4 linked regions of the Homo sapiens genome follow. The gene in region 1 interacts genetically with each later gene. Each region holds a gene or a part of one and is shown on either strand. Other genes may lie near its edges. The genes, in order: GFI1B, CMAS, HBS1L and PAXBP1.

Region 1 (7,742 bases):
GCTGGAGGATGCGTTTCTACGCTTTTGTTTTGAAATGTGCCTGTGCGCCGCAGGTGGCTTCACAGCAGGCTCCCTGGCTCCTCCTGCGGTCCTAGGAAAGGTGAGGTGGGCTGGAAAAGCTCTGGAAGGCAAGGAGCCAAGGGAGAAACAGGGTGAGGACGTAGCCTCGTCTGAGCCACTGTGCTAGGAATTGCGCCTTTGCCGGCTGCGCAGAAACACTTTTCAAAATTTGATTTTAGGCTGACAGACGTCACCTTCGGGCACAAAGTCATACCCACAACCCAGCTGTCCTGGGGACCTGGGCAGTGCTCAGGGAGACACACTTCCAAGTGCCTGAGTTGTGTTCCCCCTCGGAGACAGTCCCAGACTTTAGGGACTTGACTAAAGTTCCTGGGACACTTTTTTTTTTTTTTTTTTTTTTTTTTTTGAGACAGAGTGAGACTCTGGAGCGCAGTGGTGCGATTGCACTGAAACCTCTGCCTCCCGAATTCAAGCGATTCTCCTGCCTCAGCCTCCCAAGTAGCTGGGATTACAGGCGCGTGTTACCACGCCTGGCTAATTTTTGTATTTTTAGTAGAGACGGGTTTCACCATGTTGGCCAGGCTGGTCTCGAACTCTTGACCTCAAACGATCCACCTGCCTCAGCCTCCCAAAGTGTTGGGATTACAGGCATTAGCCACTGCGCCCAGCCAAATTCCCAGGACACTTTGAGAGTCAGGCGCTCTCCCCTCCAGAGCCTACTAAGGGGAGATGACAGGGCTGCCCTCTCCCACACACTGCCCAGGCTCCAGGAACAATAGGACCGACCATGGAGAGGTACTGTTTCAGCTCGCCTTTCCCTGTGGCTGTTGTTAGCCCTTTCCACCTATTTTTGGAGAAAAAAAACCAAGTTTAAGTGTTGAGGCATCTGAGGAGACATGCTCACTCTAAAACAGGACTTGTGAAGAGGAGGTCTGCAGAATCGCCGTGGGTATGTGCCCGTGTACATTTTTCCGGGGAGAAAGTCCAGAGCTTTCACGAGTTCTTAGGGAGTAAATTCGATTACAATCTGTGGGCATGAGTCTGGTAGATATTAGAAGCCAGCTGAGCTGCACCTGACCGCCTGGACGCGCCTGCATGTTTCTTAGTAGGCAACAGGCAGAATATTTCTTCCAAGTCTAGCAAAGTGTCAAGTTTCTTGTCCTCGGAAGTATTGCAGAAGGAATTCTTTGGACAAGAAAATGCGTAATTCCCCTTGCTCTTTCTGTCAGAGTTTGGTCTTCCTGAAGAGAGTTCTTGGGGAACATTGGAGAGCTATACCTGGTTTCGGTTTGATTAATGGAATCACTCAAAACCAGCGCAGACCATTGCCCCGAAGCTTTCAGCGGGGCAGGGTAGGGTGGGTGGGAATCTTATTGGACAGTACAAGGATTTTCAAAGGCTCTGGGACCAGATGGCTCCAGATCACCCAGGGAAAACAGCCTGATCAAATGGGATTCTTCACTGTCTGTGCCACAATATCCAGACCCTTGGTTGAAACATCAGCAAACACCACCCCCTCTTAGTCTAGAGGGAGGCTTTTCGTGTGTTCCTTGCCAGGAATTCAAGCCAATGGGAGCTGCTTTAGTCTATAATATAGAGATATGCAGAAAGAGTTTCATTCACTCACTTGTCTTTTTATTTTGATAAAATACATATAACATAAAATTTCCCGTTTTAGCCATTTTCAAGCGTACCATTCAATGGTATTAAGTACACCCACATGGCTGTGCAACCATCACCACCATCCATCCACAGAACTGTTTCATCTCATAAAGCTGAAACTTCATACCTATTACACAGTAACTTCCATTCCCTTCCCCTCACCTCTGGCAACCTCTATCTATTTCTGTCTCTATGAAATTGCCTATTTTAGGGACTCATATAAGGAATCACACAGTATTTGTCCTTTTGTGATTGGCTTATTTCACTTAGCATAAATCCTTCAGGTTCATCCATGTTGTAGCATGCGCCAGCATTTCCTTCCTTTTTAAGGCCGAATAATGTTCAATCATATGTCTAGACCACATTTTGTTTGTTTGTTTGTTTGTTTGAGACAGAGTCTCTGTCACAAAGCTGGAGTGCCATGGTGCGATCTTGGCTCACTGCAACCTCTGCCTCCCGGGTTCAAGCGATTCTCCTGCCTCAGCCTCCTGGGTAGCTGGGATTACAGGCACCCACCACCATGCCTGGCTGATTTTTGTATTTCTAGTAGAGGTGGGGTTTCGCCATTTTGGCCAGGCTTGTCTTGGAACTCCTGACCTCAGGTGATCTGCCCACCTCGGCCTCCCACAGTGCTGGGATTACAGGTGTGAGCCACTAAGTCTGGCCATAGACCACATGTTGTTTGGACATTCATCTGCCATGAAACCTGGGTTGCTTCCACTTTTTGCCTATTGTGAATAGTGCTGCTATAAACATGAGTATGCAGATATCTCTTTGAGTCTCCCCTTCCAATGATTTTGGGTCTATACCCAGAAGTAGATTCACTCACTTTTGACATTGCATTCTCTGAGCTTTGGAGGAGACATTTGAGAACTCCTTCTAAATTTCAAATAAAAATGATGATTTAGACCGGCCTGGGCAACATGGCAAAACCCCGTCTCTACAAAAAATACAAAAATTAGCCAACTGTGGTGGTGCATGCCTGTAGTCCCAGCTACTCGAGAAGCTAAGATGGGAGGATCGCTTGGGCCTGGGAGGTGGAGGTTACAGTGGGCCAAGATCAAACCACTGCACTCCAGCCCAGGTGACAGAGTGAGACTCTGTCTCAAAATAATAATAATAATGATGGTGATGATGATGATGATTACTTTCTGCTGGGGCCCCTGGGCCTGACCTGGGCTCATTTTCCCCCGACTCCTCCACGGACAAGTCTTGTTTTCCCCTTGAATCTTTTTTTTTTTTGACAGAGTCTCGCTGTGTCACCCAGGCTGGAGTGCAGTGGCGCCATCTGGGCTCACCGCAACCTCCGCCTTCTGGGTTCAAGTGATTCTCCAGCCTCAGCCTCCCGAGTAGCTGGGATTACAGGTGCCTGCCACCACACCCAGCTAAGTTTTGTATTTTTAGTAGAGACGGGGTTTCCCCATGTTGGCCAGGCTGGTCTTGAACTCCTGACTTCAGGTGATCCGCCTGCCTTGGCCTCCCAAAGTGCTGGGATTACAGGCGTGAGCCACCACGCCCGGCCTCCCTTGAGTCTTTAAACATAAAGGAAGTCAAAAAGGTTCTCTGTAGCTGACCCTGAGAACCAGCTGAGTCTTACCCAACCCTCCCAAAAGGGGAACCCGAGTGACAAGTCTTTTAGTCAAGGTGGTTCAATCTCTCACTGAAGGTCAACGAATTCTACATGGGATTTTAGAGCAAAAGGGAAGTTTAGAAATCTCTTAGCCCAACCGTCCCTTTTAAGAGATAGGAAAACCAAGCCCCAGGTTGGTGGCTGATGCGGTCACAAGCTCCAGGACCCCAAATCAGACTCAACTCCTTGGGCAACAAAGGGGCCTCATTACAGGGACATCACAGGCCTGTTGACCCAAGTCCAACTGGAAGTTAGGGTGCTGGCTCCTGCCAGGGTGCAGGGTCGCCTGTCTTCAAGAAGCACTGACTGAGATTCTGACTCAGGGTCAGGGGGACTCTATCAGGATCGGGGGTTATGGAGTGATAACAGTGAGCCTCTTTCCGGAGGTCCGATACCATCAAGTCCTCTGTTTTATGAAGAATTCCTGAGCTTCTTTCATAATCTCTGCTCTTAGCTCCTTCTCAGAACGGAGTTCATGTCAATCAAAACCAAGTGGTTGTTAATTAACTACAGTATAGGTGATTGGTTCCTGTTTTTTCTTTAAAAAAAAAACAACTCTGCTAACAGGGGCCAAAAGGAAGTTCACCGGGTGCATTTGGCCCCTCTGTGAGCCAGAGGGCTTGGCCGTGGCGTTGGCTGTGTCACTGTCACTTGCCAAGCTCAGGGGAGAGAACACTGGGGGGAGGCAAGAAAGCGGGTGTGGGGCTCAGGGGAGATCACTAGAAGAAGCATGAGAATCACCTTCCTGAGGCTGGAGAACCCCAGAAGCCAGCCCCATCTTGCCCTGTGCCTAAGTGAAAAGTGCTTGGCCAGGGCTCATGAGCGCTAGAAAGTGTCCTTGTTGTGGGGCCCAGGGTTAGAGTCAGTTGACCTGGGTTCTCCTTAGGCCCTGAGCCCAGGAGAATACCAATGCTTCCTGAAGGGAAGTCTGTCCCTGGCCTGGCCCCACCAAGACTCTTCAGGAGCCATGTGGGTCTTTTAGGAGCCTGGAAAAGACTTGAGGGTCAGAGGGTTTGATTTTTCTCCCTCCTTTTTTTTTTTTTTTTTTTTTGAGACAGAGTGTGGCTCTGTCACCCAGGCTGAAGTGCAGTGGTGGTGTGATCTCGGCTCACTGCAACCTCCGCCTCCCGGGTTCAAGCGATTCTCCTGCCTCAGCCTCCTGAGTAGCTGGAACTGTAGGCAAGTGCCACCATGCCCGGCTAATTTTTGTATTTTTTGTAGAGACGAGGTTTCACTGTGTTGGCTAGGCTGGTCTCGAACTCCTGATCTTGTGATCCGTCCGCCTCGGCCTCCCAAAATGTTGGGATTACAGGTGTGAGCCACTGCACCCGGCCTGATTTTTCTCCCCTCTTGCCCCAGCACCCTGCATTTCCCTCTGTGCTGCAGGCGGTGTTCACCGGGTGCTGTGAGGACCTCTGACAGTGCTGGGTGGCACAGTGGCTTGAGAGTAAAATCCTAACAGGCCAGGAGCCCTGGGTCTGAGTCACTTTCCTCTCTGCACCTCAGTTTTCCCACCTGCAACCTGGGAAGACACTGCTTGACACGGGCACACGAGGGAGCTTCAAACTGCTGTTTTCATCCCTAGCACGTCGGCTCCACTCCCTCTGCAGAGAGAAGCCCATGCCGGGCACTGCCCAGCACTTGGCACCCATTCTGCACCGAGTAACTGCCCACCTGCTGGGCTGAAAGTCAAGAGCATGGAGGCCTGGGGCCAGACAGACCCCAGTCCTTCCCTGCTCACTCTGCCCCAGGGTCCTGAGCCCTCCAGGCTTCAGCTCCTTCTTTATAAAATGGGACAGCAGCGGGACTCAGCATCTGGATTAAGCATCAGAATTAAAGGTGTAATAAACAAGGCAGGCTAAGCAGCCCCCTGCCAGAAGGTTTGACCAGCTCCTCTTCTATCACAGAAGCCTTGGCGAGTACCTTTGGTTCTAGTTGATTTCCTCATAAATATTATGCGCAAAAAAGGATCATCTTTTGATATTTTGATAGGCAAACCATGACCCTCACAGGCCCCCTCAAAACAAAGTGCAAGGGGAACCCCACACCCCCAGTCCTCCTCCTGCTCACTGGGTCCCCTCCTCTCCCCCTAGGGTCTGGCCTCCCCATGGGCTTTCTTGAAGCGAAGAAGAGTTAAAAGCGGGAAGGAAGGGGGGTGTGGGGAGCCCTGGTGAGGGAGGGGGAGGAGGCAAGAGGAGGAAGACGTGTCCCTGGGAGATAAGGCCGTGGGCTGCCCCCGGCCCGAGCCTGTGTTCAGAGAGCCGAGAATCTGACCGCGGGAAGGGACCCCAGAGGCCTTCAAGGTCCTTTCTCCTAATTTTAGAGCTCAGAGAGTACAGGGCCTTGAGCGCGGCCCTGGCTTCTGGGAGGCTGCTGCAGCCCTTGGCACAGGGCTTACCCCGTCCTTTGAATGCACCTGCAGTGGGCTGGGTGCTGGGATGCGGGGGAGCACATGCTGAGCACCTCTCACACTCGCTCCTGATGGATAAAGGTCCTTTCTCGCTCCCCACCATCCCATGTGGTTGGATTGGGATCCCCGTTTAGCAGATATGAGCACTGAGGCTCAGTGATGAGCCTTACAGCAGGCAAGGGCTGGGCCTGAGCTTGGCCCCCTGTGCAGAGCCCCCAGTCCAAACTCTTGATGCCCCCAGGCTCTGGGCCAGGGGGAAGCAGGCCTGGGCATAGTCGGGTCCCTCTTCTGCCTGGCTGTGGTTCATCTCCTTGGGGAAGGGGTGAGTCCCTGGCCCTTTTCCAAGCTGCATTCTCTAATCTCCCACCTCCCACCCTGCTCCTGGGCCAAGGCCTTATCACCCAGGCCCTCACTGCTGTTCTGAAGCAGCTGTGATCCCTCTCCCGCCTTCTCCGGACCCTATCACCCCTGCAGCCTTGCATGGCGGCTGGCCCAAGGGGTGGGGGGGTGGGACTCCTCTGACGCCTCAGGCATGGGCCTGGTGTCGGCCTGGGTGCAGCGTGGGGGCAGAAAGGATAGAGGACCACCAGAAGATGCTCTCCAGAGTGCCCGGGGGAACCTCACAGGCTGAGTGCAGGGATGTGAACCATTCTGGGGGCCAGGCAGGGCTCTCAGCTCCAGAGGGCTCTGCAGGGGAAGCCAGGAGTCCTGGGGTGGTCAAGTTGGTCCAGCCCTGTCACTCCCTGACTCTGCCTGGGATGGTCCCTTGACTGATGTGGTCCTTGGTTTCTTCTCCCACTCCCTGACTGGTGGGGTTGGTAGTGATGCTGGGCTGCCCACGGAAGCTGGGGGCTGTTCGCCTCTTCTCCTGTGTCCATGAAGCCTCAGGCCTCCAGGTGCAGTGGAGTTGGGGGTCCTCTCAGGTCTTGAGTCCCCACACCCCACTCCTCAGAGAGAGAAAGCCCCTGTCTCTCTAGGGAACAGACTCTGGGCCAGGGCTGTGGACAAGGCGCAGCCGTGCTCTGGCGGCTGTGGCTTGCGGCTTGCAGGAGCACGTGGATTGGCAATGTCCCCTCGTTTGCTGCAGCTTCTCTGCCAGAGCCCCCAGTGATAGACACTGAACACCTGTGATGCACCTGTCAGCACTGCAAGCCTGGACATCCCCACTTACAGCAAAGGGGATAGGCCCAGAGAGGTTAAGTGTGTGTCCCAAATTGCACAGCAAGTGAACTGAGATTCTAACCCACGAACCACTGATTCCAAAACCTAAGCTCAGACCACCCGTTTCTATGGCCTCTGAAGGTGAATCTCACTGGTACCCAAATGTAGCTTTCTAGAATTGGGGTCCACTGTGTGTCACAGAGGGAGACCCCAGTCCCTGCCTTTCCTTTTCTGCTCCATTGCAGCCCAGGTCATGCCAATGGGAGCAGGCTTGTCTGAGCGTTTTCTAGGGGGCGATGCATTCATTTCCTGGTGAAGGAGCAGTGAGGGAAGTTAGGATTTGTAGCTGCCGTAACAAAATAGCACAAACAGGTGGCTTAAAACCAACAGAAATTTATTCTTTCATGGTTCTGGGATCTAGAAATCCAAAATCGAGGTGTCCGCAAAGTGGGTTCTTTCTGCAGACGCCAGGGGAGAGGGTTTCATGCCCCTCTCTGAGTTCTGGCGGCTGTCGGCACTGCCTGGCATTCTCTGGCTGATAGAAGCTCCGAGTTCTGGCGGCTGTCGGCACTGCCTGGCATTCTCTGGCTGATAGAAGTGTCACTCTCTGCTCTGTTGTCGGCACACGGCGTTCTCCCTGGGTGTCTGTGTCTCTGGGTCCAAATTTCCATCTTCTTATAAGGACACGAGTCATCTTGGATTGAGGGCCCATCCTAACCCGGAATGACCTCATCATAACTTGATTACATCTGCAAAAACACCCTATTGCTAATAAGGTCACATTCACAGGTTCTGGGTGGACATGAACTTTGGGGGCCACTGTTCAACCCAGTATAGCTGGTGTTTTATCTCAGGAGG
Region 2 (7,193 bases), on another chromosome or scaffold:
ACAGGCATACCATGTTTTATTGAGCTTTGCTTTATTGTACTTCACAGATACTGTTTATTAGAAATTGAAGGTTTGTGGCAACTTTGCATCAAGCAAGTCTATTGGCACAATTTGTCCAACAGCATTTACTGACTTCATGTCTTTGTGTCACAATTTAGTAATTCTCACAATAGTTCAAACTTTTTCATTATTATTATATCTGTTATGATGGTCTGTGAATCTGTGATCTTTCATGTTACTGTTGTAATTGTTTTGGGGGTTGTGAACTATGCTCATAGAGACAGAAAACTTAATCCATAAATATTGTGTGTGTTCTGACTGCTCCACCAACCAGCTGCTCCCTCATCTTTCTTCCTCTTCTTGGGCCTCCCTATTCCCCGAGACACAACAATATTGAAATTAGGTCAATTAATAAGCTTACAATGGCCCCTAAGTACTCAAGTGAAAGGAAGAGTCACACATCACTCACTGTAAATCAAAAGCTAGCAATAATTAAGCTTAGTGAGGAAAGCATGTCAAAAGCCAAAATAGGCCAAAAGCTGGGCCTCTTGTGCCAAATGGTCAGCAAAGTTTTAAATACAAAGAAAAAGTTATAGAAGGAAACTCAAAGTGCTACTTAAGTGAACACACAAATAATAAGAAAGTCAAACAGCCTTCTTTCTGAGATGAAGACAGTTCAAGTGGTCTGGAAAGAAGATCAAACAGGCCACAAGACTACCTTAAGCCAAAGCCTAATCCAGAGCAAGGCCCTAACTCACTTCAATTCTATGAAGGCTGAGAGAGATGGAGAAGCTGCAGGAGAAAAGCAGGTAGCTAGCAGATGTTGGTTCATGAGGTTTAAGGAATGAAGCATCTCCATTACATAAAAATGCAAGGTGAAAAGCAGCAAGTGCTGTTGTACAAGCTGCAGCATGTTATCCAGAAGATCTAGCTAAGATGATTGACGAAGGTGGCTACACTCAACAACAGATTTTCAGTGTTGACCAAACAGCCTTCTGTTGGAAGATGCCATCTAGGATTTTCATAGCTAGAAAAAAGTCAATGTCTGGCTTCAAATCTTCAAAGGACAGGCTGATCCTTTTGTTAGAACGTTAAAGCAGCCATGATTTTACATTGAAGCTGATCCTCAATACCATTCTAAAAACCCTAGGACCCTTAAGAATAATGCTAAATCTACCACGCCTGTGCAGTATAAATGAAACAGAAAAGCCTGGGTGATAGCACAACTGTTTATAACATGGTTTACTGGATATTTTAAGCCAACTGTTGAAACCTACTGCTCAGAAAAAGAGATTCCTTCAAAATGTTACTGCTTATGAACAATGCACCTGGTCACCCACGTGTTCTGATGGAGATGTACTAGCAGATTCATGTTGTTTTTCATGCCTGCTAATACAACATCCATTCTGAAGCCATGGATCAATGCATAATTTCAACTTTCAAGTCTTGTTATTTAAAAAATACAGTTCTAGGGGTATTGCTGCCATCAATAGTGATTGCTCTGTTGGAAATAGGTAAATCGAAAACTTTCTGGAAAGTATTCACTATTCTAGATGCCATTAAGAACATTCATGATTCTAGGAGGCCAAGGCGGGTGGATCACGAGGTCAGGAGATCGAGACCATCCTGGCTAACATGGTGAAACCCCGTCTCTACTGAAAATACCAAAAATGAGCCGGGTATGGTGGTGGGCGCCTGTAGTCCCAGCTACTTGGGAGGCTGAGGCAGGAGAATGGCGTGAACCCAGGAGGTGGAGCTTGCAGTGAGCCAAGATTGCATCACTGCACTCCAGCCTGGGCGACAGAGCGAGACTCCATCTCAAAACAAACAAACAAACAAAAAAACAGAATTCATGATTCATAGAAGGAGGTCAAAATATCAACATTAATGAGAGTTTGGAAGTTGATTCCAACCCTCATGGATGACTTTGAGGGGCTCAAGATTTCAGTGGAGGAAGTAACTGTAGATATGGTATAAATAGTAAGAGAATGAAGTTAGATGTGGAGCCTGAAGATGTAACTGAATCACTGCAATCTCATGATAAACTTGAATGGATGAGGAGTTGCTTCTTACAGATAAGCAAAAAATGTGGTTTCATGAGATAGAATCTACTCTTGGTAAAGATGCTATGAACACGAAGTGACAACCAATAATTTAGAAAATTACATAAATGTAGCTGATAAAGCAGTGGCTTGAGAGAACTGACTTCAATTTTGAAAGATGTTCAATTGTGAGTAAAATGCTATCAAACAGCATCACACACTAGAGAGAAATCTTTCATGAGTCAATTGATGTGGTAAACTTCATTGTTGTCTTATTTTAAGGAACTGTCACAGCCACCTCAACCTTCAGCAACCACCACTGTTCAAGGCAACATCCTTCAGCAGCAGAAAGATTGACTCGCTGTAGGCTCAGGTAATTGTTAGCATTTTTAAGCAATATTTTAAAATTAAGGTATATACACTGTTTATCTGGGCATAATGCTACTGCACACTTAATAGACTACAGTTTACTTTAAACATAACATTTTATGTACCTGGCATCCAAAAAATTCCTATGACTCGCTTTATTGCAACGGTCTGGAACCAAACCCGTAATATCTCTAAGATATTCCTGTATGCAAAATTACCATTATCTCTCAGGGGTAACTGCAAATAATTTGCTTCCTCCAAATAAATACATAATCTTCATAATATATAAATTTATTTGGATATTTGTATTTGTGTATACTGCTGATCCTTGAACAACATGGGTTTGAATTGTGTGGTCCACTTTTATGTGAATTTTTTTAACCATGTGCAGATCAAAAATACATGTGAATCATGCAGTATATGGAGGGCCCACTTTTTGTATATGTGGGTTCAACAGTGTTGACTGTGGTACTTGAGTATGCACAGATTTTGGTATATGTGGGTGGTCCTGGAACCAACCCCCACATAGACCATATGCTGTTACGTATACATATGTGAAGTACAATCAGATGCTCTACCCCGGCATCGAGTGGCTTGTTTCTCACTAAGATTGGTTAATGTTTAAAGGAAAGAAAGAAAATGCATGGTAAATTTCTTCTAGAGCAACAAGGCAGTTTTCATCAAGTTTGAGAAATGTAGTTTTATTAATAGAAGGGCATGTCTTACCATACACACTGTCCCCAGATAAATAAAATCCCAACATCTTTGAAAGCACACAAACACACAGTTTTACAGGGTACAATACAAAGTGAACTTTGATGATGTTCTTACTTGCATTTACTAAAAATCTGAGAAAGACTGTAATCAGTCTCTAAATAATTATCTTGCGTAAAGAGAAAAGTAGAGCACAATATATATATATCACAAACCAAATCACACTCTCTGTAACATTACAACATGGAATTTACTTAATCAAAAATAAAAGCAAACTGGCTGAAGAAGGCTGTATCATTTTTTTCTCAATATTACGCTAATTTCTATTTTTGGCATGAATTATTAACCTTTTCCATTAGTAGGCAAATGTGCTCTGCAAATTCTCGGATGGCACCACGGCCACCATTACATTTGCAAATGTATCCAACAGCCTTCTGGGCAGTAGAACAGGCATCAGCAGGAGCGCCACTTAGGCCCACTCTCTTCAAGCACTCTTCATCAGACACTTCATTTCCTATCAAGTAAAATAAATACTGAGCAAACATTTAAAGAGACAAAGAATATTCTAGCTAAATAATGCAGACAGCAACCAACAGGTAACTCTGGCAACTTCAGTAAGACCTAGGGGCACTGCATATAAGAATACTAAAGATTAGATGGAACAAAAATATTTTACAGTATAATTGAGGTCCAGGGTTTTCCCTAAGCAATCAAAAATAAACTCTTATGAGCTAGAGAAGAAGAATGGAGCATAATTGCTACCTGCCATGCATATTACAAATGTTAGAAATTTTATATATGAATTCTAAGTAAGTTATTTAAATTTTTCATTAAGCAAAATTTCAAACATATGCGAGAACCCCAATTTTATATTGAAAAATTATCAGAATTTAAAATCACTTAGTAATATTGTTTTCTATGCACTGCCCCCTAGTTTATTTGGGGAAAGGGAGAAGAAGGAATTCCCAGACATAATATTTTATCCAAAAACTCTTCAATATTTATCTCTGATAAATATAATTTTTTATCTGACAGAATATCATTAAACCCACAAAATCAGTAATAGTTCCTTAATATCCTCTAATAACCTAGTATATGTTGAGATACCCCCAGCTGTCTCAAAATTGTCCTTTTATAGCTGACTTATTTGAATCAGGAATGAAATAAGGTTAACATATGGTCTTTTGTTTATATATATATAATCTCTTAAATCTCTTTTAATCTGTAATGGTTCTGATTGGTATGCCATTTATTAATAGTTGCTGAAAAATTACCATTTTTAAAGAATAAAAATAGATACTAAATCATACTGACATAACGATATCCTTTTCCTCCCTCTCTGTTAACCCCTTTTTTGGAATAGGATGCATTTCAGAAGCTCCCAGTATCTTTAATTCACCATTCTGAGTAAAACTATTACTATACTTTAGACCACATACAATAGTACAATCTTGGTTGAAGAGAGTTTCTTTTACATTTGTTCTATGCTTATCTACTGAAATTTTCTCATTTATTATTAAATGTGTTGAAATTTGAATCGTTTTCACTAAAATAAAAAAAGTTAGTATTTGCATAATCCAGCCTTTAAGCTCTATTTACTAAATTTTACTTATAAAAGTATTGATTTTTTTAAGAAATATATTTTTATACACTTATGTCACCCATATAAAACATTGGTGAGTGAGTTATTATTTTTTTTTTTTGTAGACATGGGGCCTCACTATGTTTCACAGGCTGGTCTAAAACTCCTGAGCTCCAGGGATCTGCCTGCCTCCGCTTCCCAAAGTGGTGGGATTGTAGGCATGAGCCATCATGCCTGGCCTGCTGTGAGTTTTAAATAAAAATGTAAATGCTCTTCTCCATTTTCTTACCTCTCCTTTTAAAGTGTGTGTGTGTGTGTTTTTTTTTTAATGTCATATAAGTAATACGTATTCGTGGTAGAAATATTTTTTTAAAAAATAGAAGCAAAAAAGTCACAATCATCCTAATTATCACTATTTGTAGATAATCACTACATTTTGACACATATAATTCTAGAGTTTTACCTATATAAATGATACACTTATTACTATCTGTAGGCACTATGTTAAGCATTTTATATTATCTTTGTTTTTCTTTCTAATGGCTTTATAAAATTTGGTTTGTGTTTATATTCTAAGTAGAAAACTAAGGTATACAGAAGCTTGCTTAACATCCCAAAGAAAGATAATAAGTATAGTTGGAATTTGTTATACATTCCACTAAAATTTTCTTCTAATAAAAATTGGATCTGTCTTTAACAAACATTCTGCAGCATTTATGTCCATTAAATCTTCATGTGTGGTTTAAGGGTTATTCCTGAAGTCTCTAGATCACATGCTCCCAAAGTTTTTCCTGTGCTTCTTATTTTGAGGCTCATATTACCCTTGTAAATACTGCTTTCATACATGATTTATAGTTATTATGCATCTTAATAACTTATCAATTTTAAAATGTTGACATCATCAGACTGTAAGCTCTGCAAGCAGAAAGCCTACAGTTCCCACAACCAGTTCCATGCTGCGTATCATCATAGGTACCTGGTAAGTAAGTGTATTGCTTAATATCCAAGTGAAAAACATTGTTATATTTGATCATGCAAATAAATACAGGTCACAGCACTGTTTGTAATGGTTGCATAGTAATCCTTTTTAGGGATATTCTATTTTTCACAGGACATTTAAGTGGGTTCTTTTAACTTCACTATTGGCCCATTTGTCTCATTTCTTTCCTGGAATTGGAATTTGGAGGAAAAAGTATGTACATTCAATTAGCAGCAAAAACTATTCAGAGTGTAATTCATATGTACTAGAAATTCTGCTAAGTGCTTTACTCATATTATTTTATTAATCCCTTCCAGAGCCCTACGGTAATAGGTACTCTCGATATCTCCAGTTTACAGATGAGGAAACAACATTCATCTTATCACAACTGGCTAATCAGTGGTACAGTCTGACTTCACAGCTTGTGCTAATAATCATTCTACATTTGATACCTATTATCAAACTAACCTCCAGAAAGACTGTCCCAGTTTAACAGTTTGATCAGCAGTGTTTGTTAAAAGAGTTCCTATTTCCCTACAATCATACCCATTTGGAGGATGTGCTTTGTCATTTCTTTAAAAATAAGTAAATAATTAATTCCTGGTCCATTTTACTATGGGTGAATAAAAAGATACCAACCAAGATATGCCACTTCTTTCCAGCACAGGCCCATTTCTTTTCTCCATTCATCTACAACTGCTAGCTTGTCTGATACACTGACTTCCATTTTGCAATCCAGTTTTAAAGAAGACAGCGTCTGCTTTGAACAGGCCCTTTCTGAGATTAGCCTCACCTTAAAAAAAAAAAAAAAAAGGATTGGAGGAAGAAGGGAAAAATTAAAAAGTGAAGAAAACAGAAATCTTTCATAATAATTGACCTTGTAGACAGTCCAAATCACAAACGAGTCATCTTTTGACTTTCTGAAGGTCCAAGTAAGAAAACTGACTGTCGAATTAAAATCATGATGCTTTAAAACAAAGCTCATTTTATTTCTCATAGCCCAATAAAGGTGAGACACAGTATTTTATTTTCTACAATAGAAAGGATTCTATCTACAGGTAAAAATTACAACATATATTGTCTGATACTACTCTAAGATTCTCCTATAATTCAATTTATCCAGAGGAAAGTCTATAACCTCTCTCTTGTGCTGCTTAGCAATACATATTTAGGATTTCTGGTAAATTATAATTATCTTAGCTAGCTTTCATTTAAAAAAATACACTTAAACGTTAAGTTATTTTGAATCAAAAATGTCATTCATAAGAATAAGCTAGATTTTAAAAATCCACAGGATATCGTCCTTTTCTAAAATGGTACACCTATTATCTAGGGAATCTTTCTTGCTGCAAGATCCTTTGGGAAACATTAGATAGCTCCCATTTAAAAGTAGTTATGTTTATATTTACTGAATAAACAAGAAATATTATTTGCTGATTAACAAATTCCTAATTCTACTCATCTAAAACTAAATAGTATAATAATTTTCTAGGCGTATGAAGGCCAA
Region 3 (7,742 bases), on another chromosome or scaffold:
CATGAGGCATTCATTAAAAATACAGATTTCTAGGCTTCTTCCCCGGGAGATTATGACTCAGTGGTGCTGGAATGAAGCAGGAAATTTGTATTCTTAAGAATTATTCTGGCCAGGCACAGTGGCTCATGCCTGTAATCCCAGCACTTTGGGAGGTCCAGGCAGGTGGATCACCTGAGGTCAGGAGTTCAAGACCAGCCTGGCCAACATGGCAAAACCCCATCTCTACTAAAAATACAAAATTAGCTAGGCGTGGTGGCGGGCGCCTGCAATCCCAGCTACTTGAGAGGCTGAGGCGTGAGAACTGCTTGAACCTGGGAGCCAAGTGGAGGTTGAGGTGAGCCGAGATCGTGCCACTGCACTCCAGCCTAGGCTACAGAATGAGACTCCGTCTCAAAAAAAAAAAAATGATTCCCAGCAGATTCATATCACAAGGTAAGATTAAGAAACACTGGTGAACTACAAGTCTCCCCTTTATTCTGGCCCACCTATACGCCACTTTGTGGACCATGATCAGTTATCTGCACAAAATACTAGCTCCCTTACTCAAAAAACTCCAATAAGTTGACACTAAAAACACAAAATTAGAAACTGTCTTTCACAATTTCATTCCTATTTTCTTTCCTAGCCCTCTTTCCTCCTGCCACTTGCATTAATCCTGGTAGTCTGATGAAACAAGCCTCACTCAGAGGCCATTGCTTAAGCAACGTTGTTTCCTCTAGCTGGGATGCCATTCTTACTCCCAAATTTCCTAGCTTCAATCCCACCTCCTTCTAGAAGCCTTCCCAGACTCCTTCAGTCAGGGTTATTTTCTTTACCCACAGTACTGTTGTAGCAAGTTATTTGAACAAGACTTTAAACAAGCTTCCTTATACCAAACTAATTTATAAATGTATTAGAATAGTGTTTTTCTTACAAAAAAAAAAAAGAATATACAATAAAGGTGTGAAATTAGAATGGAGCAAACAAAGATTACTTCTAATCATATTAGCTGAAACAAAATACATCACCATTCAAATAAAGTTTTATATGCAAACTCCTTTTGCTACCCCCTACTCTTTGACATAGGTTCAATACTCAGTATCAATCTTTCTAAAAGAAAGAAAAGTTAACGTTTAAAAATCACCATCCTAGGCTGGGCATGGTGGCTCACACCTATAATCCTGGCACTTTGGAAGGCCGACACAGGAGGATCACTGGAGCTCAGGAATTTGAGACAAGCCTGGGCAGCATAGTGAGACCAGGAAAATTGAGCTTAATAGAATTCAAAAAAATATACACGTGCTGATGAATTTTAGAAAGAAATTCCAATTAATTGATAAAGTCTTTCAATTATCAGACTTCATTACACCATGAATACAATCAGCTTTTCAATGACATTAGCTGCTTAAGAATAGAAAATATTCTTCTAAAACCATTCATTTTTTATTGAAAATTACTTGGAAAATATACCACTATAGAGGAAAGTAAGTTTCTTATCTGATGTTACTGCTATTTTAAAATGTTTTGAAAAATTTAAAAATCCAAAGTCGTATGCTTTTGTTAAAAATCAGTTTGTCACAGAAGAAACCAAAAACATTTAACTATCTCCTGCTTTGATAAGATCAGTTGGCTTCTTGGTGTGTTTGAAAAGTAACTCTCAGAGTCAGACTGTCCTGAATACAAACCACAGGTAAGAGCCACATCAAAAGCTATGAGAGACACATGGATAAACTCCGTCTCTGTCCTCAAGGAAGCTAGGCCATAAATGCAAGTCTCAGAGAAACACCCTTTGAAGGTCTGACTTTGTACTATTACCTTATTATTCAAGATAACATAACATTTATCCAGAGAAGCCTAGATAAATGACTGGGTTAACCTGCAATATTAAGGTGTCTTTCAGTAATCCCCCCTCTGAAAGATTCCACGCTTATACAAAGCCATATTCAACCAACTTCCAAGTCCTGCAGACCTCAACTCCTGTAAATTTTCTCTTGAATGTATTTCCAAATCCAATGCTACCAACTCTTGCCCTAAACAAATGGTTCTCAATGCATACCACGAGCATACCCCAGTGGGCTTGTTAAAACATCTGCTATGCCTCACTCCTAGTTTCTGACTCTTGGGTGGAGTCCCCAACATTGCATTTCTAACAAACTCTCAAGCGATGCTGATGGTTCACTTTGAGAACACTGTCCTAAAATAGCCTCATCTCCTCTAGATAAATACATATAACAGTCTCCTAACGAGTCTACTTACATCCACCCATATACCACCTTTAATCCATTAACTATGTATTAGAGATTTTTTTAACTCAAATCTAATATAACCATATCATCTTCTCAGTTCTATATGCCATGCTCTCTAATGTGCTTAGAATGTGAGTGATGAGGATAGCACTACCAGACATCACTTTGTCACCTCTAATATTTAAGTTACCTAGTCAACTGTGATGCTGAATTATAGGAGCCCCAAAGGGCAAATGCCTAGGAGGTTCCTAGAAAAATGTGAAATTGTTTTATTCCTAAGTCACTACAAAATGTCTTCTCTTTTGAACCCCTGAATAAGGAGCTATAAAGGAATGCTGCTTATTAAGCCACCTCTCAGCTTCTAACCTACCATCCTTTACTCAGCTTTGTGATGCTGGATTGAAGTCACTGCAAAGCACATTTCTTCTTTGATACCCGGCTCCCTTTTAGGATCATCCAATAAGGAGATATGAAAGGGACACCGGAAAGCCAGAGAAGGCAGGCACATGCTCCTTTCCTTTTGCTTCTTGTTCCAGTATCACCCCAGCAATACTCACTTCACCTTCCAGAAGCAGTTTCTTCCAGTAACTGCAATTAATATCCGTTTTCAGTTTTTCCAAAACTCCCAGAACCAGCTTCAATTTGCCTCTTCACTCCCCAGACAACACGACCAGCCAGTAGGTTGGAATCCCCTCTTTAAAAGGCGGAATCCCCTCTTTAAAAGGCTGAATCCCAGCTCTAAGATTCAGGGACCTTCTGAGGCACCAGCATCAGCCATGCAGTGCCTCCCTGCCCAGAGGTCTGAGTCCTGGCCCCACAGTCCCTCTTGTGAACTTCAGAGGCAAAGCAGCAAAGAACCCTCTCCTCAAGGTCTAAGTCACAGCTGCAAGGAGCCTCCATCAGCTTCTAAAAGGTGGTTTCAACCTTGCCTTTTGTTCCCCTAAGAACTAGGGACAGTAAAGTGCTTCCTGAACTTACTACCTTCTTGATATCCTGGTTGCACTTTTTGCATTATTTGTTCTATAATACCTCATTAACAACTTTTGATGTTAAATGTTCTCTGATAAAATAACTGGTGCAATTTTTATCTCCTAACAGAATATAGACTGATAACAGTGAAACATTAAAAGATGAGAGGAAAAGCCATGATTAAGCTAAATGAGAAAAGTACTTGACCAGAAGAGCAGGCCTGTACATAAAGAGCTAGATGCATTTCAGAATAACCAGTTAACAGGAAAAGGATGACAGAGTAGATATGATAAAGACAACTTCTAGCATATCTATGCCTTTACAAAGAAAAAGAAATTATAAAAGTCAGAAGGGGCATATTTGGTCTGCAGAGGCTAAAAATAGGATGAAAGCAGGTACAGTTTATAAGACAGCCCAGCGGACTAGAGGGTAATTAAGACAAGGAGGATGTATTAGTCCATTCAGGCTGCTATAACAAAATGCCATAAACTAGGTAGCTTATAAACAGAAATTTCTGACAGTTCAGAGGCTAGGAAGTCCAAGATCAAGGCAGTCTGTGTGTGGTGAACACCCGCTTTCTGGCTCACAGACAGCACCTACTTGCTGTGTCCTAACATGACAGAAGGGAAAGAGTTCTCCTTGGGACCTCTTTCACTAGGAAATTAATCCCATTCATGAGGGCTCTACCCTCATGGCCTAATCACCTCCCCTCCCAAGGGCCCCACCTCCTAATACCATCACCTTGGGGTTAGAATTTCAACATGTGAATCTGGGGAAACAAACATTCAGACCATGGCAGAAGGCTCTGAAAGAAATGTTAATTATATCAAACCTTTAAACTTGTGAAAAATGAGTTTTATAAATTATATTTATGCTATACCCAACCACAGGTAAATATACTATTATACACTCTTTTTATACCATATTAAATTTTTTTTTCCATTTTTTGAGATGGAGTTTAGCTTTTGTTGCCCAGGCTGGAGTACAATGGTGTGATCTCAGCTCACTGCAACCTCTGCCTCCCAGGTTCAAGCAATTCTCCTGCCTCAGCCTCCTGAGTAGCTGGGATTACAGGCACTCGCCACCATGCCTGGCTACTTTTTGTATTTTTAGTAGAGACGGGGTTTCACCATGTTGGCCAGGCTGGTCTCGAACTCCTGACCTCAGGTGATCCACCTGCCTCGGCCTCCCAGAGTGCCGGGATTACAGGCGTGAGCCATCGTACCTGGCCTACACCATACTAAAATTTAGCAGGGCATTTTAACCTGTGTAGACAGTAGGCTGAAATTTGGAGACAAATGTAGTGTTAGAGAAATAAGTGACAGGAGGATCAGGATTAATGACTCAGCCTTTGCTGGGAAGAATATATCAATGTTCTCCTTATATGGTGGCAGAGAAGAAATCTTTGGGCTGATAATCTAGAAGATGCAGCTCTGATGTGGAATTATACAGAAATATGAATGCCAAATTCCTCTGTGGCTCCAAAAGAAGTCTGAACTACATATATTGGTTTATTTACCAAACTGTTCAACAGATAAACTAAAGTACTGTATAAAGGAAAGTCTAGGCATAACACCTCCAAGTTTCTAATACTCAAAAGATCCTTGAGGATATAATGGCTGCCTGCCTCCAGAGGCTTCAGAATTTCATTATTGACTAAATTACCATTTTAGTATATTTAGATTAACTGCATGATGCAAAGTATGGTGGAAAAGAAGCCACAGTCTTTTTCACATTATTTAAAACTAAATAATAGAATCACAAATTTAAATTCTACTCACAGGAAAAGAAATTATTTTATATGCCTTTAATAATTAACATATAATTAACTTTTTAAATGTTATATATTACAGTCTCACAGAACACTCCAGTCCTTGAACGACTAACATTTACATTTTTAAACACCAAATCTAAGGAATCAAATTATTTTTAAAAATTCACCTGTTGACGGCGAAATACAATAATCATCCTCTACAGACTGGCCGTAGAGATCATCATCTTCAAAATCTAAAATAAAGACAAAAGAGATAAATTCATTTACAAGTTCTTTTTATATTCTTAGTTACTAGTGAGGAAGCATCTGAATCCTCTCCAAAATAAACTGTTTATCAAAATTTAAGGATCCTAGAATGTCTATTTTCAAAAAAACTCTTAAGAATTTCACCCACAAAATAGGTTATTTACTAACTCTATATTTATAAAGACATACACAGTTCTTCAGTTGTTAAATTAATTGGGTTTACCCAGGTCCCAAGTTTTCACCTCATAGGATCAAATACAATAATCCTATAAAAAATATACTTGAGGCCAGGCACGGTGGCTTACGCCTGTAATCCCAGCACTTTGGGAGGCCGAGGTAGGTGGATCATGAGGTCAGGAGTTTGAGACCCGCCTGACCAATATGGTGAAACCCCGTCTCTACTAAAAATACAAAAATTAGCTAGACATGGTGACGTGCACCTGTAATCCCAGCTACTCTGGAGGCTGAGGCAGGAGAATCACTTGAACCCAGGAGGCAAGGTTGCAGTGAGCCAAGACCGCGCCACTGCACTCAGCCTGGGCGACAGAGCAAGACTCCGTCTCAAAAAGAAAAAAAAAGAAAAAAAGAAAAAAAAATACTTAGTCTCTCCAGTGTTGACAAAAATCTGAAATAAACCATTTTTTTCACCATGTGCCCTCTAAAACCAAAGCACTTCTCTTCCACAGAACATGGGGGTATATAATAGATCATGAAAGTAGTATTTCTTTATGGAGAGCTAGGTAACATCTATACAAACCAACTTACCCTAAACTCCCTATGCCCACCTGCTGATGGCTAACTGCCCTTTTTTTCTGCTTCCTGGGATATGCTCTTTGCCTAGATTTTCCGAGGCCATTTCTTTCTGCTAGTTAAGGTTCCAGCTCAAATGTCTCCTCTTTGCACAAGTCTTCCCTGACCACTCTGGGTAAAGCAGTAAGCCCCTCTGCTACTGTTACCCTCCAGCACACTTACCCAATTTACAGAGCGCTACGCCTGTTCACTACATGAGACTATCAGCTTCTTCAGGGCAAGACTTGGTTTAGCCAACTACCTGGCACATATGGGGCACTAGATTAATATTTGTTTTATTATAAATTAATGAATCAAACTAATTACAACTAAAAACCCACAAAGAACATAAATATATTTACATAAATTTCATTTGACAAACACTAACACCATGCCAGGGAGTAGTTGAGACAACTGTGGTATAACAGTGAACACATTTCCAGTTATCACTGCACCTAAAATCTGACAAGGAATACACACAAGATAATGGGCAATTACAAAACCATGTGACAAGTGCCTGATGTGAGAAACACAGAGCAATTTGGGAACACACACATGAATGACAAAACTAGAACCGGGAGTGGGGCAGCTAGGGAAAGATCCCCATTAATATAATATCCAAACCAATTCCAAAGGATAGAGTTAGCTAGTTTCTGAGGGTATTCATGCAGCAGGAACAGCATGCTCAAAGGCTGAGACCAAATGCTTACAGCAAAGAAAAATTAGATAAATGCTACTATTGGGCAAAAACATATATGATTAAATAAATTATTAGATCACAATCCCAAGTTAATAAAAATTTATTTGCAAATAAACAAGGGGCCATTCACAAACAAAGTATTTTTAGATATTGAAGACAACAATAGGCCAGGCATCGTGGCTCACACCTGTAATTCCAGTACTTTGGGAAGCCGAGGAGGGAGGATCTCGCTTGGGCAACACAGCCGGATGCTGTCTCTACTAAAATAAAAAATTAACCGGGCATGGGGGCACATGCCTGTAGACCTAGCTACTCGGGAGGCTGAGGCACGAGGATTGCTTGAGCCCAGGAGTTGGAGGTTACAGAGAGCTATGATCATGCCACTGCACTCGCACTCCAGCTTGGCCAACCAACAAAGTGCGATCCTGTCTCTTAAAAAAAAAAAAAAAAGAAAAAAAACTCTTTTTTACTAGGTCAGTTTGTCAATGCTGAAGTTGACCCTAAAGTGCCACAACATATAAAGATGAAGAGAATTCTTTCCTGCAATCTTCATAGTTTGTTTCCTCAATCAACAAAATTATGAAATATTTACCACATGTAAAGAACATTGTGCCAGCTACTTAAAGTATGGATTTTGCCTTCCTGAGACTTTTAAATCAGTGACTGAGGCAGTCATGTAAAGTATTACATAAATTACAGAGAAAAACAAAGTGGGAGTTAAGTAGCGGAACCAGTAGGTTTTAGAACACAAACTCTCTCTAATGAGGTTATATTTCTTAACAGAATTTTTAAATTATTATTCTGAGAATTCAAGAGAAAGCCTAACTGGGAAGAAGAGAAATAAACTGGACCTTAATGAGTACAACTTTTATAAACAAGAAAAGGGGATGAACCTCCTTAATGTTACAGGAACAGCTTGGTTATGATGTCACCAATTGTTTCAAAGAAGCATGACAACATGACAACCTAACCTCAAGAAGCCAAGGTGCTCCCTGAGGCCAACCACCTCTCCTCCATGAAGCATTCCTTAACGTAGAAA
Region 4 (8,448 bases), on another chromosome or scaffold:
ACTTTAAAATGAGAGGTACTCTTCCCTCTATCCATATCCAATCACCACTTTTACACTGGGAGAAATTTTTGAAATTTCAGGCCACCATAATAACATATTTGGCTTCTGGACCTTGTCTTTGCTACCTCTACCCTAATTATTTTACTGCAAATCTTTCTCTTGGCTCAGGTGTCTGGAGGCTGATCAGGCACAATTTGAATCTTCTATGATTAGAAAAGGGAGTTCAATTTCACTAGTGAAACACTGTTGGAATCAGAACTTACACCAATGCTGAACAGCCAGAATATAAGAACTGAGAGTAACATAAGTAGAATGGAAGCCAGATGTTATTAACCCTTCCTATTAACTAGAAGAAAATGTTAATGTTATAGAGGATGCTCTTAGCTCCAAAACTGAGTCCTAGTTGTGCACATGTCAAATCTAATTAAAAATATAAAAATTAGGCCGGGTGTGGTGGCTCATGCCTTAATCCCAGCACTTCAGAAGGCCGAGGCAGGCGGATCACAAGGTCAGAAGTTTGAGACCAGCCTGGCCAACGTGGCAAAACCCCGTCTCTACTAAAAATACAAAAATTAGCCAGGTGTGGTGCCAGGTGCCTGTAATCCCAGCTACTCGGGAGGCTGAGGCAAGAGAATCGTTTGAACACAGGAGGCAGAGGTTGCAGTGAGCTGAGATCGTGCCATTGTACTCCAGCCTGGGCGAGAAGAGCAAGACTCCGTCTTAAAAAACAAAACAAAACAAAACAAAAATACAAAAATTAGCCGGGTGTGGTGCCAGATGCCTGTAATCCCAGCTACCCGGGAGGCTGAGACATGACAATAGCTTGAACATGGGAGACAGAAGTTGCAGTGAGCTGAGATCGTGCCACCGCACTCCAGTCTGGGCCATAGAGCAAGACTCCGTCTCAAACAAATAATAAATAAATAAATAAATAAAATAAAAAGAAATGCTTGGAGTGCTCGGGATCTTCCACTTCAACCTGGAATTTAAATCTTACTGAAATTTCTACAGGATGGTGTGGGCAAACAGGCATCCTAATGTTTGCTGATATAAGTGCAAACTGCATAACTTCTATAAAAAGAAATTTAGAATTAGCAAAATCATAAATGCATATATTGAGATCTAGCAATTTCAATTCTATTTCATCCTACAGATGTAACAGTTTTTCAAAGCTTTTCATTACAGCACTGATTAAGACTAGAAATAATCTAAATATCAATGTTTATGGAACTGGTTAAATAAATTACGGTATATCCCAACAATGAATCACTACGCAGGTGGGTTAAAAAAAAAAATAGACGGCCGTGCGCGGTGGCTCACGCCTGTAATCCCAGCACTTTGGGAGACTGAGGCGGGCGGATCACGAAGTCAAGAGATTGAGATCATCCTGGCCAACAGAGTGAAATACAAAAATACAAAATAAATTAGCTGGGCGTGGTGGCACGTGCCTGTAATCCCAGCTACTAGGGAGGCTGAGGCAGAAGAATCACTTGAACCTGGGAGGCGGAGATTGCAGTGAGCGGAGATCGCGCCATTGCACTCTAGCCTGGGCGACAAGAGCGAAATTTAGTCTCAAAACAAACAAACAAAAAACCAAAAAAACACAACCCTTCATATACAGATATGGGCCGATCTCCAATCTACGGTAGGCTAAAAATGCAGCTTACACACCATCTGTGTAAAAAGGGGAACACATTAAAATATGCATATTTATTTGCTTTTATGTTCATGGAACATCTTTAGAGGATCATAAGAAACTGTTAACATTGCCACTGAGGAAGTGAACAGCCTTCCAGACATGGGTGGATTTTTTTCACTCTACCGAATACCCTTTTAATTTCGAAACATCAAAATGAATTCGCATGCACAGGTGCATGCCCGAAGGAAAAACTTCTAGTTCGGTGATGAGATAGGGAAAGCCGGTGAGTTCAACCTTAGGCGCAATCACCCTGTGAAGGTGTGGCCAGCGAGGGCTTTGTCACGCAAGTCTGAGAACTGTCACAACCTTCCCCACCCCCTGCTCTATTTTCCTTCCACTTGTTTCTGAAACTCACTAAGCTTTGGAAAGTATTTAGTCATAGAATTGCTTGCAAACTTGGCATTCTTTAGAAAACACGGAAACACTTTTGCTTTCCTTGTTCCTGAAAGACTGGGGAACGGGGGACATCAAGCCAGGTAACATTGTATCATAACTGAAATTCAATGTCTTTGAAGTAACATTGTACCATAAATGAAATTCAATGTCTTTGAAGTAACATTGTATCATAAATAAAATTCAATGTCTTTCTAAGAGCTCTGTAGCTATAAAGCTGTAGAAATACAAAGTATTACTCAAGAATAACTAGTAATTACCAATAGTCACACCTCAGGTCAAAGTTTGGAGAGGACTATTCCACCTACTAGATCACACTTTCCTTCCCGAAAGCCGCTTCTCTCTCTGGCCTCTCCCCTCCTCCTCCTCCCTCATCTGTTTGGCGGGAGGCTTCCTCACATTACCGCTCCGCGTAAGTGCGAAGACGCACTGCAGCAGCGCCGTCTGAGGGACAACAGAGCCTACTCTTTCTTCTCATCTCTATGATCCTCTTTGTGACCTGTCAAACAACACCAGAGTTCCATGCTAATAGTACTCCACTCCGACAGAGAGCGATGCAAAGAGCCGACGCTCTCGCGAGAGGTGTGGGGCTCTCTCTCTCTCTCTCGCTCTCTCTCTCTCTCTCTCTCTCGCTCTCTCTCTCTCTCTCTCTCTCTCTCTCTCTCTCTCTCTCTCTCTCTCTCTCTCTCTCTCTCTCTCTCTCTCTCTCTCTCTCTCTCTCACTCTCTCTCTTTCTCCAAGTATTGAGAGCGCGTGGGAGCATAGGCGCATGCGCGCTCGTGGGGTGCGCGGTAGCAACAGAGGACTCGACCCGGCTGGAGCTCCGGAGAGCGCGCGTGCGCCGTCACGAGCTCGGCGCTGCCGGGGCCGCGGTGTGGAAGCGAGTATTCGACCGCCGTGCGGGCCGCGGGGATGTTCCGAAAGGCCCGGCGGGTGAACGTGCGCAAGCGGAACGACTCCGAAGAGGAAGAGCGGGAACGCGATGAGGAGCAGGAGCCGCCGCCGTTGTTGCCGCCGCCGGGCACGGGCGAAGAGGCGGGCCCCGGTGGCGGCGACAGGGCCCCTGGCGGGGAGTCGCTGCTGGGCCCGGGGCCGTCGCCGCCTTCCGCGCTGACCCCGGGCCTCGGGGCTGAGGCCGGGGGCGGCTTCCCCGGCGGCGCGGAGCCCGGCAACGGGCTGAAGCCGCGCAAGAGGCCTCGCGAGAACAAAGAGGTGCCCCGGGCCAGCCTGCTCAGCTTCCAGGACGAGGAGGAAGGTAAAGTGCGCGCTTCGGACGCCCTTAGACGGCCGCATCCCCGACGCAGGCCCCCGTCCCCCGCCCCCGTATTCTCTGGACGCCCAGCCCCGGAGCCCTGGAACGGAGTCCCCTGCCGTCCGACCGGCTGCGAATCTTCCCCAGCCTCCGGCCTTCTGCTCGGGCAAGGGACGCGTTCCCGCGCTGCCCCCAGCCTTTTCTTAACCACCTCCTCTGCCACGGGGCCGGAGCTCAGATCAGGCATTCAGAGTGTTTCAGGGGAAATTCGGTGTTCCCTGTCCTGCCTCTTTTCTGCCTGGCGTGTTTCAGGGCCAACTTGGTGTGGGTCCCCTGGCTGCTCTTGGCATGCTTTCCGAGCCCTCTGCAGGTCACTGCGCCCACACTTCTTGGATGCTCTGTCCAGGCATCCTCGACCATGAAGGCCGAGTTTGTAAAAAGGAATACTAGGAGAGGGAACAGAAGCCTGGAGTTGCAGCTCTGGTTCTGAGTGACCTTGGGCCAGTCCCTTGCAGTCGCTGAGCCTCAGTTTACCCATAAAAGTAATTAGGGGTAGCAGATACCCAGCCTTCTTCGCACTGACTTTGGGAACAGTGAAGCGAGACGGTGTAAAAATAGTAAAAGCAAGGTAGTTTCTCCAATTCCTGTGGGAGGCCAGGCTGCAGTGGTTTTAGATTGCTGATCTTAAATGAGCCTTAAATCTTTTCTTCTGACCATTTGAATGTGCATAACCCAGTTAATTCCATGTTACGAAAAAAGAAATTAAGTTTTGTAAATCTTGCATTTTTATTCGAGAGGTTTCCAGTAAGGTAGGTAGTTTATCTTTGGCATTTCTGTTACTCTTTATTTGGTTTGAGAGGAGTACAGACAGATTTTTGTTTTTGAGATACATGAGCTATTTTTTTTTAAGTATTTAGTACTTTTAAAATTTCAAATCAAAGAAAAGTGATTTGCCCTTACCTTAGCTTTAAAACCACTATGTCAGCTTGTGGTGGATGTAGTTACTCAGAATTGACAGCACCTTTTTATTTTAGATATTTTGTTTCGGATTCGTTAATAACTTGGTGATGTGGTTTTTCAGAAACATTTTGAATGATTTTTTCCCCTCTCAAATAGATGATTTAAGGACGACAATAATAGGAAAATTTTGTGAAGTTACATGTGCTATTCCTTTAAAAAGTCTCAAAAATCTCATTACTTCACAGTAATTTAGGAAGTTGACCTCTGTTTTTGAGTCTGTGACAGACTTGAAATAATTATACAATGATTTTGGCATATGAGTATATATATTTGGGATAATTTGGACAGCACGTAAGATCATGTGAAAGAAGGGAAAATATTTTCAGAAAATAGTTGCTACAGACTTCATTTAATTTCCTTTTTAAGAAAATGAAGAAGTTTTCAAAGTGAAGAAATCAAGTTATAGCAAAAAGATAGTAAAATTGCTCAAGAAGGAATATAAAGAAGATCTTGAAAAATCGAAGATTAAGACAGAACTCAACTCATCAGCTGAAAGTAAGTACCAAACTAATTGAATTCTTTTGAAATGACAAAATGAAAGCTCTTTCTCACAGTGATTTGCTGTATATCTTCTGAACTCATTCAGTGGACCCTGTGGTTGTCAAGGGCCCTTATTGAGTAGCAGTACAGTTCTGTTATTTAATTGTAACACAGATGCTTTGTAAATGTATTTTATAAGAAGACAGAATTGTTGCCACTGGAACATTTCTGCTGCAATGACTAGATTCTCTCACAGTTTTCCTACTTGTGTGCAGACTGCTGTTGAACAGAGAAAGAAGGTTTCTCATTTTAGCCTAAGACACAGGTTTATTTCTGTTTGAAGGAGTGTTGTGCAAATTCTTGTATTTTGTAGAGACAGATTTGCGATTTCTTTGGTGGTATTTCCACAGTGGATTTTATTCTTAGAGAACTTTTAGGAATGCCCTAAATTTAATATTAGTATTACTCCCATTCAGCAGCCTTATCTGATACTAGATGAAGACTCCTTAGAATAATGAGGCAGGTATATTGTACAGACATCTCTTACGTCTCTCAAAACCTCAGTTTAAAAAATTTTAAGCGGTTATTTTGTCTTTAGGAAAGTGGATCCAGTATAATATTCTATGGTCTGAGTTATTCTCCTGCAAATGCTATTTTATTTTATGGAATTAATGAGAAAATCATGATTTTCCAGATTCTCACTTACAGGCTTATTGTGAAAAAGTATGGCTTTGTATCTCAAATTTACAATCTAGATGTGAAGACAATATCTCATAAATGTGTAAGAGGACTCAGTGTTTGGCAAAATGTTCAATCAGTGTTCCAAAGGGTGGCTACTCTTTCAGAGGAGAGAGGACTGCTTTATGGAAAAAGTGGGACTCGAAGATGGATCTTTGATAGTTAAAATTCCGAAAGGGAAGGTATTGGGGGTATGATCAAGGATTAAAATGACTAAAGCTGTTTTGGAAAAGAACAAGTACACCTGACAGGTCAGAGTAGATGATTTGTGAAGGAAGTAGTTAGAAGTTTCATGTGAAAGATACGTTGACAGATTGTGAAGGATGTTCAGTATCCAGTAAGGGTTTACATTTGCTACAGTGGCTTGCCAAGATGGTGACATGATAAATGCGTTTTGAAACTTTAGCCTGGTATTAACATGCAGCATGAGGAGAGATTGGAGGCCTAAAGCAGTTTAAACTCAAGGGCCAGCTTTGATCCATTAATAGTGGGTTTAAAAAGGTCTCACAGTTGAGCAAGAGTAAAGGCTTCTACTGATTTAGTAGGAAATTCTGGATGAGTTAAAAATGTTTTCTGTTGTTTTAGGGGGAGAAGTGGAAAGAAAGAATGATTTGAGAACCATTCCAAGGGAAGAATTGATAGGCTTAATATACACTTTGCCATATTGGATTTAAAAGAAAGAGTCAAATTTGAACTTTTGTCCTGGAGTGTCTTAATCCATTTTCTGCTCCTGTAACAATACTACAGACTAGGTAATTTATAAACAATAGAAGTTTATTTGGTTGACAGTTCTGGAGTCTGGGAGGGCCAAGAGCATGGCACAGGCATCTACTAAGGGCCTTTATGTTGTCATAACATGGTAGAAGGGCAGGTGAGTCTCCAAGACAGAGAGAGAATATCCTGCCAAACTCATCCTTTTATCAGGAGCCTGGGATAATGGCATTCACCTTCTCATGTTGTAACTGCCATTTAAGGGCCCCACCTGTTAATAACGTTACAATGGCAATTAAATTTCAACATGAGTTTTGGAGAGGACACTCAAACCATAGGGTGTCTTGGTTATGAATAATTATATATAGGAATAGAGAAGGCAAGTGGAAGGAGGAATGTTTTTAGGAGAACTGGTTATTTTGGAGTCTAGGAAACTGCCTTATTTTCCTCAGAATTCTTGAGACCAACTATATATGATGAGAGTAAAAGAAAGGTCAGGATAAGTGACAACTGAGAAAGGCCTGTTGTCATGGTTGTTGTATTAAGTCTGTTTTCATGCTGCTGATAAAGACATACCCAAGACTGGGAAGAAAAAGAGGTTTAATTGGACTTACAGTTCCACGTGGCTGCGGAGGCCTCAGAATCATGGCAGGAGGTGAAAGGCACTTTTTACATGGCGGCAGCAAGAGAAAATGAGGAGGAAGCAAAAGCGGAAACCCCTGATAAACCCATCAGATCTCGTGAGACTTATTCACTGTCATGAGAATGGCACGGGAAAGACCAGCCCCCATGATTTAGTTACCTCCTCCTGGGTCCCTTCCACAACACGTAGGAATTCTGGGAGATAAAATTCAAGTTGACATTTGGATGGAGACATAGTCAAACCATATTAGTTGCCATTTATTGTTGGGTTTAGAAATTGAAACAAGTGTGAAGTTGATGAAGCCATCTCTGACCTCTTCCATCCTTCTATCCTCATTGAATTCTGATACTCCACTCACTAGATAACTCCAATTAATGTCCTCTGAAGGCGGAGTCTGATTGTATTGTAGGTTGTCATTGGTAACACTGAAATGAAGGTCTGTCATTAATTGGCAATCCAGAACTCTTCCTACCTTCAACCCTCTATAGTAGGCAGAGACAATTAACTTCAAAATAACCACGGTATTGACTTGAGAACCCCATTTTTCTGATATTCTTAAAATAATGAGTTCTCTTTTTAATTTGAATTTGAGTGGAAGTAGTCAGTGAATACCTAGAGATGTAGATTTGGGGGTGGTGCTTATTGCGGTGATAATTAAAGGTGAATGGAATTGATGAGGGAGCCGTATATAAAGGAAAAATTCCTGAAGACCAAAGACTTCTACTCTAGTAAGCCTACATGTAGAGGAAGGGATTTACCAAAGAGATAAAAGAATCAGGAAGGCCAAAGAGGAAAAGAGAAGAATGTTTCAGGAAGATGATGGTCGCTTGTGTGAACTAGTACAAGAAAAGTCAGGAAAAGTGAGGACCAAGGAGGGGCTATTGGCAAGATTGCCCAGCGTTTCTCTTGAGGGCTTCTGACAGGATGGATGGGAGTGGCCCACCAGCCAGACCCAGTGCCCTCAGAGATGTTTGGAAGAAGGAACATCTTTTGCTAAATTGCTTGATGATGCTATCATATATGAATTAGCCGTGGCTGCAGCCATTGGGTTAGGTTGGGTGAAATCAAAGGCTGTTTGTAGGGTCAAGGCACAAAAGTTGGAGAGGAAGTAGAGGGCAGCAGGTCCACACTGCTTCCTTGGGAAGTTTGGCAGAGAGAGACTAGGCAATAACTAGAGGGACCAATGGAGTCAAGTGGGAAAGCTCTTTTGATGAAGAGAAGCCTGTCCCTCTTTGTAGAAGAGGAGAGGGAGAGCCTGACCAGGTTTAAGGTGAAGTGGGTAATAATTGTGAGCAGGTTTCCTGAAGTAGTAGTAAATGAAATTGAAGGCATGAGTGGAGCCTTGAAAAAGGTTATTTAACATCTATATAGAGATGTCTGGAAGGGTAACATGTGACCACTGACATTCACATATCACCATGCTTTCGGCTTGTGTTTGCTCAATCATAAGCAAATACTTGTGAATTTAATGAAACATTGAATCCTAAAATTTGTAGGAATCATTCATTATCT

The links.
Region 2: changes in GFI1B (region 1) and CMAS together harm fitness less than expected from each alone (positive genetic interaction), as found in Homo sapiens cells (one large-scale study listed by BioGRID).
Region 3: changes in GFI1B (region 1) and HBS1L together harm fitness more than expected from each alone (negative genetic interaction), as found in Homo sapiens cells (one large-scale study listed by BioGRID).
Region 4: changes in GFI1B (region 1) and PAXBP1 together harm fitness more than expected from each alone (negative genetic interaction), as found in Homo sapiens cells (one large-scale study listed by BioGRID).

The regions. Positions count from the first base shown.
Region 1 is NC_000009.12:132,978,848-132,986,589, forward strand, and holds part of GFI1B (zinc finger protein Gfi-1b), read left to right. Parts: intron 1-428; exon of another isoform or gene 429-970; intron 971-7,742. UniProt on the Homo sapiens protein: Essential proto-oncogenic transcriptional regulator necessary for development and differentiation of erythroid and megakaryocytic lineages.
Region 2 is NC_000012.12:22,061,567-22,068,759, reverse strand, and holds the end of CMAS (N-acylneuraminate cytidylyltransferase), read right to left. Parts: intron 6,480-7,193; coding exon 6,326-6,479; intron 4,988-6,325; exon of another isoform or gene 4,833-4,987; intron 3,640-4,832; coding exon 3,449-3,639; 3' UTR 3,092-3,448; downstream 1-3,091. UniProt on the Homo sapiens protein: Catalyzes the activation of N-acetylneuraminic acid (NeuNAc) to cytidine 5'-monophosphate N-acetylneuraminic acid (CMP-NeuNAc), a substrate required for the addition of sialic acid.
Region 3 is NC_000006.12:135,045,447-135,053,188, forward strand, and holds part of HBS1L (HBS1-like protein), read right to left. Parts: intron 5,202-7,742; coding exon 5,136-5,201; intron 1-5,135. UniProt on the Homo sapiens protein: GTPase component of the Pelota-HBS1L complex, a complex that recognizes stalled ribosomes and triggers the No-Go Decay (NGD) pathway.
Region 4 is NC_000021.9:32,766,225-32,774,672, reverse strand, and holds the start of PAXBP1 (PAX3- and PAX7-binding protein 1), read left to right. Parts: upstream 1-2,917; 5' UTR 2,918-3,004; coding exon 3,005-3,347; intron 3,348-4,730; coding exon 4,731-4,859; intron 4,860-8,448. UniProt on the Homo sapiens protein: Adapter protein linking the transcription factors PAX3 and PAX7 to the histone methylation machinery and involved in myogenesis.